Homo sapiens: one gene and its partner. The protein of the gene in region 1 purifies or fractionates together with the protein of each later gene. This does not show direct contact. Each region holds a gene or a part of one and is shown in the gene's direction. Other genes may lie near its edges.

What was found. Proteins that work in one complex are often made in the same cells at the same time.
Region 2: the proteins of DSC2 (region 1) and SPIRE1 fractionate together in Homo sapiens (co-fractionation; one large-scale study listed by BioGRID). This does not show direct contact.

What each region holds. Positions count from the first base shown.
Region 1 is NC_000018.10:31,099,042-31,104,215, reverse strand, and holds the start of DSC2 (desmocollin-2 isoform Dsc2a preproprotein), read left to right. Parts: upstream 1-1,794; 5' UTR 1,795-2,244; coding exon 2,245-2,313; intron 2,314-2,492; exon of another isoform or gene 2,493-2,628; intron 2,629-2,955; exon of another isoform or gene 2,956-2,995; intron 2,996-5,174. UniProt on the Homo sapiens protein: A component of desmosome cell-cell junctions which are required for positive regulation of cellular adhesion.
Region 2 is NC_000018.10:12,655,308-12,659,297, reverse strand, and holds the start of SPIRE1 (protein spire homolog 1), read left to right. Parts: upstream 1-1,190; 5' UTR 1,191-1,431; coding exon 1,432-1,768; intron 1,769-2,565; exon of another isoform or gene 2,566-2,647; intron 2,648-3,990.

The sequences.
Region 1 (5,174 bases):
CTTACTTTCGGTCTGGTGTACTTTTTACTATAAAAAGTATATTTTTATTGGGAAACTAGTTCATGCAGCAGAATCATATTCATAAGCAAAAGTCATTCTTTTAAAAAAAGATCACATCTACTCACATTCCATTTTTTTTTTAAATATATGCCCTTTGTTTCAAACCTATGTTTTAGAGGGATCTATTTCAGTGACCATATAGCCTAACCTAAATACATTAAATAAATTGGGTACTTGCTCAGAGAAAGTACTTTATATTCCATTCTTTTGTTGAAAGTTTTTTTTGGAATAAAACAAACAAATCACCATTTTAATAGCCTCTATCAATTAATGTGAAAGAGGAAAATAAATATCTAAGATGAATTCTAGTCAAATTGCTCTTCCGCCCTTTCCTGGAATGAGGAAAAACATGAGCTGCCCTTAAGGCATCAGAGGGTAAAGAGTAGGCAAGAGTTTGGAAATGTCCTATAGTCAAAGCCTGTGATGATAGTCTGAGTAGATCTCCAGAACCTGAAACGCTTATAGCTTTCTTTTTGTCCTCTGAAAAGCTTCATGCTAGAGACCATGATGTCATCTTTAATAGGATGAGGTGTGCTTATGGTATCATTGATGGAAAACTATGAGTGTTAAAAAATATGGAAACGGAAGGATGTCAATTATAGTCTCATGCTGATGACTCAGGCTTATTTTACTAGCAAAGGGTCAATGATAATTTTATGGATATGGAGACAGAACAGCTCATTAGTGGCATTCGTTAATAAAATAGGGCATGAGCATAGCACAGACACAGAGAATGTAAGGCATGCGCTGTTTGACATTAATTTTTAATTTAAATATACACTCAGTATTGCAGTAATTCTGGCTCGGCATACAATGGTGTTAAGATGGTGAACATTTTCAAGAATCGAAATGGTGTGAGTGTCAGGGTTGGCTTTTCACATAGGATTCTCAGGACATCCCTGAGGAAACTTAAACCAAATAAAAGGGAGCAGACAAGTTTCTCTTTTGTGGTCAGGCTTACCTGGTTTAAGTCAGTAATTGAAAAGAGGTGCAGGAGGATGAGTCAGATGCCTTGTCATTGCTTTCTGAAGAGCTAAAAGAAACAGCATTTATATCTTAATCTTCCAGATTGTGTGCTGCAATAATTCATTTAGTTTAAGTGCACTTCAAATAAAAATGTAAATTATCCCATTCTTATTCATTTCTCACCATGAACTCTGGTTTTGATGGTAGTAAAGAAGGTGAGAACTCTCCACTGGATGTTCAGGAGTCCGGTATAGGAAATAAGTTATAACTCTATTTGTGACCAGGGATGTTCTTGGAGAAAATCAGTAACCACATGTAGCCCACGACTAGGACCTCAATGGATGCATTTCTTATAGTAACTCACCCTCGATTTTATTATTTTGCAGTCGCCTTGATTCCCTAACTTTACGTACGTATGTATGTATATATGTATTTTTGTCTCTAAATTATGGCGATTGTCTTGTATCATTGTCATGCCAGTAAATTCCTAAAAACACAAGACCCCAAAGAATGGTGCCTCAGATGACTATGATGTCTGAACTGCTTGTGGGTGTGTGTAGGAAATTCACTCCAGTAGAGTGTGTAACAGTCTCCCTGGAGTCAACTTTCTGTCAGGTGGGCCTCAGGCAGCTGTGACCTAAAACCCAGCCTCTGCGGCTCAGACCTCGCTCTGTAATTGACCCCAGGGCAGGGACCACGGCCGTCGCCGAGGGCAGCGGGCAGGGCGGAGCCGGGGCCGACCGCGCACTCAGGAGTGAGTCTTTGTGCAGTCAGGGCTTCTGCTGGGCAGGGCCGGCTGTTAATCTCGCCTGGCGGAGCGGACACCGGGGCGTGGTGGGGGAGATGGGCCTTATAGGTGGCGTCCGCTGGTGAGAAACACCTTGCGCAGGTAAAAGGGTGGCGGCGAGAGGGAGTTCCCACCCGTGGCTTTCTTAGAGAAATGAAGTCTTAAGTCTTAAATAGACAACAAGGAGGGGCCGATCGGTGTCTTTTGGACGCGTCTGGAGCCCCTCCCTCCGCCAAAGGAAAAGCCCCTTGGATGAGAGGCAGGCGCTTCAGAGAAGCTAAGAAAAGCACCTCTCCGCGCGCCCCACCTCCTCCGCCTCGCGCTCCTCCTGAGCAGCGGGCCCAGACTGCGCTCCGGCCGCGGCCCTCGCCCCGCGGAGCCCTCCTACCCCGGCCCGACGCTCGGCCCGCGACCTGCCCCGAGCCCTCTCCATGGAGGCAGCCCGCCCCTCCGGCTCCTGGAACGGAGCCCTCTGCCGGCTGCTCCTGCTGACCCTCGCGGTGAGTGTAGCCGCGGCCACCGCTCCGGGGAAGGGGGCGATCGCCTAGGGTGCAGAGGAAAACTAGGGGAACGGGGATAGGTGGGGGTGGCGGGAAAAGCTGGGGTGAAGGGGCCTCTGGGTGGCTAGAAAATGGAGTTGGCGGGGGTGGGGGAGGGCAGATAGGAAGAGGATCGCGACCTGAGAGTTGGGATCCCCAAGGGAAGGGAAGGTGTCTCCGGTAGATGTAATCAGCGCACTCAAGGAGAGGCGGGAGCGGGCCGCTTTCGCCCAGCCAAAATCGTGGCCCCTGGGTACGCGCCGGGGAGCAGGGTGCGCCGGGGCGGGAGTGCGCCGGGGTCGGAGTGCGCCGGGGCGGGAGTGCGCCGGGGCGGGAGTGCGCCGGGGCCGTCCAGCTGGCCTCTGGCACCTTCCCCGGGAACGTGCGGCTCCCTGTGCCTCGGGAACGTGCGGCTCCCTGTGCCTCGGGAACGTGCGGCTCCCTGTGCCTCAGCGCCTGCCCAGGCCACGGAAAGGGGAACCGCTGGGCGGCCGGGACGGAGAGCGAGTGTCCTTGGGTGAAAAAGGGAACTGCTCGCCTTTCTGGGAATTGTTTACTCTGAGAGAAGGGCGGGGGGAAGTGGCGGGTGGGGGAGGGGATCTTGACCCTTTGCTCCTGAGGACTGTCGACCGGCGAGCCCTAGGTGAGCATTTGTACAGTTTCAGTGGTTTCTTAACGTGCGAGGCTTCAGTTCCCTAAATCTTCGGAGGAAGGAAGGGTCTTTCTGATTTCTTGTCCCCAGAGGCGACTCGATTTTTCTGCTCACCACCCGCCCCCCGCGCCACCGCCCCTTGCCCCAGGTTCTTTCTTTCTTTAAAGAGCACTACAGCAATGACCCTACCCCTTCCCAGAGCTGGGAGCCTAAGTGGTTGGCCTTATTTGGGGCGGGACAGCCCCTTTCCCAGGCTTGACCGATGGGATCTCGTTGGGGAGCCTGAAGACGCAAAAAGCCAATGCCGGGAGCAGCGTCTGGGGAATTGGGGATATAAAAAGTCCGATTGGACTTTTCCTGGCTCCCTGGAAGAGGAAAAAAATCGACAGGTGTGGAAAAGTGCTCCTTGTCTTAAGCAGAAGGCGTTGGGCGCCAATCAATCTTGAAGGACAAAGGGAGGAACCCGGAAGGCTAATTCCTTCTGGGAGAAGTGAACTGGGGGCTGAAATATTCGTATAATTTCCCCTTCTCTTCCGCTCTCACTTCGCAGTAGAGTTCCACATTTTACAATCATGAATTGGTAATTGTTACTGTTATTAGAATGTCTTTCTCGAGGAGCTCAATGGACTTCAAACCCTTAACTGAATTCTCAGGGCATATTAATAACATAGAAAGGGCCAAGTACACAGCAGTTAACATTTTACAGATGAGGAAACCAAGAATGGAATAAATAACGGTCAGAACATATGTTGATGAGTAAGAAATAAATTTTCATTAGACTCCTAATAAAATTGCAATTTCTTTTAAAACCACCGGCCATTCTTTAAAGGAAAAGGCATGCACAGACGCTGGCAATGCGTGGCATTGCTCTGCATATACCTGCAGAGAGAGCTTTCTGTGTGTTATCTCAGATTCTGTTTAGGAGGAGGTGGGGTATCACTGAATACACTGAAATTGAATTTCCATTCCTTGTTCTTCCTTAGCTTCGGAGTTTGATAGGCGGGGAGTGGGGTAGGAAGTATGCTGGCCCTGCCTACACTCTCATTCTGCTGGTTTTTGCTCTGTGCACATCTGTGCAAAGCCCTGCCAACCTCACGTGGCTGTTGTGGTTGTGAGTCTCAAGTGTGAGAAATGCGTAAATACTAAGTGTAAGAAATTATTAAGTAAGAATGATTGTAGCTGGGCATGGGGTGCGCGCCTGTGGTCCAAGTCACTGGAGAGAGGCTAAGGTGGGAGGATTGCTTGAGCTTGGGAGGTCCAGGCTGCAGTGAGCCCTGGTCATGCCACTGCATCCCAGCCTTGGTGACAGAGCGAAATCCTGTCTCAAAAAGGGGGGAGAAATATCTTTGGTAGGAGGGTAGGATCCTTTACCTTCCTTCCTTCCCATATACCCAAGTAATCCTTCACCATTCCACAAATCAGCTTTTCCTCACTTCTTAATGTTTCTTCAGACCACACCTGGCTTAGCCACTTGAACTCTGTCTTCTGCTAACCACTAATAAACCTTCTAAGATCACTGGCTCTCCTGTGCTAAATCCAAATGACTCATTCTTTATATGGTTCCACCTTGTAGCTTTTGCCCTTATTCTTGACATTCACTCCCCCCCGCCTTTTTTTTTAATCTTTCTGACCACTCAGGGTCTGACTCCCTACCTAGCGTCTTGTCTTTTTCTTCTTTTTCTGTTGTCTTTTTTTGGTTTGGTAAAAATGACATAACATGAGATCTACCCTCCTAACACATTTCTAAGTGTATCGTATTGTTAATTATAAGCACAATGTCATATAGCAGATCTCTAGAACTTTCAGTTTCCATAACCAAACTTTTATATCCATTAAACAGCAAATCCCTGTTTCCCCTAACCTCCGTCACCTGGCAACCACCATTCTATTTTCTGCTTCTATGAGTTTGACTACTTTTTCCTGCACTCTTAAATGCTGGTGTCTCTTGGTTTTCTGTTCTAGGTCTTGTCCTTTGGAATCTACACTCTTTCCCTAGGGCATTTTATCCACTTTTATAGCTTAAAATATCACACAGTTGCCAACATATACTAAATTAATATTACTAGTTCAGATGTCTTCATTGAACAATAGTCCTTTGTATCACTCTACTGACTGTGATGTGTGACACAGCATTTATTATCTTCCCAAACAATGTTGTTTTTCTTTTAGT
Region 2 (3,990 bases), about 18 Mb from region 1:
TAATAGACTGTTGTTATTTAAATAGACTGTTGTAGTTTCTACCGCAAGATGCAATTGTTGAGAGCGTGATTTCTAACATTTTACATAAAACTGCCGTAAAAGGTTTACTGGAACTTAATATACATTGCCTATTTGGTTGATGCTTTCAACACTCTGTAGGGCTTTCACACAGGACTAGCCTCAGTGGAATTTTATCGATTAAATTAATCTACCAATGGGTGATTAAGAATTATCTGTTTTATTGCATATTTAATAGGTTGGGGGGGCGGAATTCTTTCTTTCTACGGCTAATTGCCCTCAGTTCAATTTTACCACTGTGATATTCATTCCACATGCTCTGATGAGTGTGGTACTTGAGACATTACCTTAGTGAGGGAAGGGACCAATGTTACAAATGAATCCGGAAGGACGCTAAAACTAACACCTGCAAATTATGTACATGTTTATATTCCAGGCGCTGGTTTAGCTTTTGGGAGAAGTCAGTGAGGAAAACCCGTAAAGATCCCCGTCTTTACGGTGCTTACCCTGAAGATGGGAGTGGAGAGGGAGGTATTCAACCAGCAAGAAATCGGAAAACGCGCAGAGCGGCCGCGGGGTCACGGGAAACTGCCGGAGGCTTTCAGGGCCCAGGGCCCGGCGGGGAGGCTTCAGCGGGCCTGCATTTTCTTAGGCATCCGCTCCAGGCGGGTTCAAGTTTTCAACCAGACCTTCGGCGATCCAGCGCCTAGGGAACGTCAATGCGGGTGACTTCTCCCGCTGTGCAGGGCGGTGACCCGGGTTGGCGCGCCCAGTTCCCCGCCAGAGTCGGCCGGGGACTTCCCTGATAAATGCGACACCCTCTTGCCCCTGCGCCCCCCGACCGCGCGCCCGGCCCCGCGTGTCCCCCACGCCCCACAACCCTGCACGCCCTACCCGGCCGCGCATCCCCTCCGGACCGTGCGTCGCCGCCCTCACCATTGCGCCCCCAGCTGTGTGTCCCTTGCGACCGGGCCCCCCGACCGGGCGTCACCGCCTGCGACTCTGAGAGCCCTGCGGGCTAGAGACCGTGCGGCCATCTCGCCTCGAGGCGAGGCCCTCCTGCCTGGTCCTCACCTCCAGAGCGTGCATCCCCCGGCCCGTGCGGCCCCCTAAGGGGCGGGCGCTGGGCGGCGCTGGACGGCGCGAGGCGGGGCGGGGCGGGGCGGGGCGCCGGACGCCATCGCGTCGCTACCGGCCGGCGGCTGTCTGACCGGGACTGCAGCCGTGTCCTCGCCGCCCTCCTCTTGCCCACGCCTCCCGGGCACTCGCCTGGTCCCGGCGGCGGCGCGCGCGGCCGCGTTGGGCGGCGGCGGTTCCGGGGATGGTGAGGCGGCGGCGCGCGACGACGATGCTCCGGAGCTGAGGAGACGCCGGCACACGGCGCGACTGCCGAGCGCAGCGCCCACCCGCGGGATGGCTCAGGCGGCTGGCCCGGCGGGCGGCGGGGAGCCGCGGACTGAGGCAGTGGGCGGCGAGGGGCCGCGGGAGCCCGGGGCAGCCGGCGGCGCGGCCGGGGGCTCCCGGGACGCGCTGAGCCTGGAGGAGATCCTGCGGCTGTACAACCAGCCCATCAACGAGGAGCAGGCGTGGGCCGTGTGCTACCAGTGCTGCGGTTCCCTGCGCGCCGCCGCCCGCCGCCGCCAGCCCCGCCACCGTGTGCGCTCGGCCGCGCAGATCCGCGTCTGGAGGGACGGCGCCGTCACCCTGGCGCCCGCGGCCGACGACGCGGGAGAGCCGCCCCCAGTTGCGGGTGAGGCCGCCGGGCCCCTTTCCCTCGTAGTTCTTGGAACACCCGCGGCTGGGCCGCCTTACCCTCAGCGTCCCCGGCCCTTCCGCCCCCGCCGTCCCCCCCCATTTTGCCACGGGAGACCCCCGGGAGGATCCGGCGGGGACCCGCAGGGGAGGACGGCGTCAGGCCGTGGCTGGCCGGGGCCCCTCGGAGGTCAGAGCCTCGTGGCGGGCGACGGCGCAAATCCGCTGTGCGGAGGACGTTTGGGTGGGCCTGGGCCTGCGGGCCGCGGGGCGCTCGTCATTGTGCTGCCCGCGGGACAGCTGCCCGCGGCGCGTTTGGGAGCGGTGGGCTGGGCCCTGCTCCGGGCCAGCGGCCTGTGCGCCTCACGCCGTGGCTGCTGACACACGGCCGGGTTCACGGGGTGGGGAGGGCATCGCAGGCTTCACGCGGGGGCTCCGCACGGATCCTCAGTGCCGCTGTCGGAAACACCGCACTCCTCACGGGAAACTAGCAGTATTCCACATTAGACAGCCTTTCCTCGGTTCGGAAATGTAAAGATGATTCTGAACCGTGAGAATTCTGCTCTTTGGGGAGAAATGGAAAAATAGACTAAATAGTGATTTTTGGCTCCTGGACGTTAGAAAATACTGATTGCATTCCTGTATGTGAAAATTTGTTGTGATGAAAAACAGGCTTGTAAAGTGAAAAGTTGACAGGATGTCGGGATACAAAGAGAAAATGGGCCTTAGTTACGTCATTGTCTAATGTAAAATTTTCAGGATTATGACCTAAACAGTAATTTATAGCCAGGGTTTACTCAGATGCTCATTGAAGAGGAGGAGGAGGTTGAGAAAAGGTTTCTCCCATCAGTTTTTATCTAATTCATTCTTTTGAGAGGCAAGTCTATTAAAAACATAGAAAAACAATCTACCCTCACTTTTAGAAAGTTGATGGAAATGTCAAAATGCTTAAGGTGAAAGATGTAATTTCGAATTAGTAAAATGACATTTAATGAAAACCCTTGTCTAACTTGATTAAAACAATATTCAAGGTTATAGTTATTCTTTCAGTTCCACCAGAACGTTTTTATCTTTTATTTTTTAGTGTCAGGTAAACACATTTTTATTTACATGCTTTTATCTTTTATTTTTTAGCGTCAGGTAAACGATTTTTTATTTAAAGCCATCTTTTTAATTGTTCTTTTGAAACTATTTCAAATAGTATTTTTGTTTCTTTGATGGGCTTATTGCTTTTAAACTTGGACTTAATCTTAGTGGGAAATACTTGCAATTATAATTTATAGTGTATTAAATGGTACAAAAGATACATTTATAAAATACAGCAATGTCTGCCAGGTGCGGTGGCTCAAGCCTGTAATCCCAGCACTTTGGGATGCCGAGGCAGGTGGATCACCTGAGGTCAGGAGTTCGAGACCAGCCTGGCCAACATGGTGAAACCCCGTCTCTATTAAAAATACAAAAATTAGCCGGGCGTGGTGTTGTGCCGCTGGAATACCAGCTACTCGGGAGGCTGAGGTGGGAGAATTGCTTGAACCTGGGAGGTGGAGGCTGTAGTGAGCTGAGATCGCGCCACTGCACTCCAGCCTGGGTGACAGAGCGAGACGCCGTCTCAAAAAAAAATACAGCAATATCGTGCCTTGGGATTTAGCTATTTCCAGAGGAAAAATGGTTGTGTGCAGCCTGCTTTTAGAAGCAGCGTTGGTAGTGGTGATTTCCGGAGAGAACAAGCCCCCAGTTTACATTGTCTTGTCACTTAAATTTAATCCCAAAATCGTGTAGTTTTGTTGTCAAAGATTGATAGATTCTCGTGGATGGGTTTTTTCTTTTTTTTTGGTCTGAATCTTATGTTGAATTGGATTATTTTTTACATCACTAGTGTGAGTGATAACATGTTGATCTCAGTGTAATAAACTGCCTTTATGGAGAAAATAGTGAGTGGAGTTGTTCTCCACAATTCGCAATAGGTTTATAATTCTCTTTCTCAGTTCTGCTCATGACCTGCGCTACCAGTTATGGAGGAGGCCTAATCAAAGTTGTTGATAGAGACTTGAGCATTTTCTGTTGCCTAAAATTATTTAAGAAGTTCATACTAAAACATTAGTTTATTTCCTCATTGGCTTTAAGAATAGTTGCGTGGCTCAGGAAGATACAGTCTTCTGAAGATTTTATCTTGATTCTTACACTTGATGAATAATTTGGTGGTGTGCACACTTAAAAATT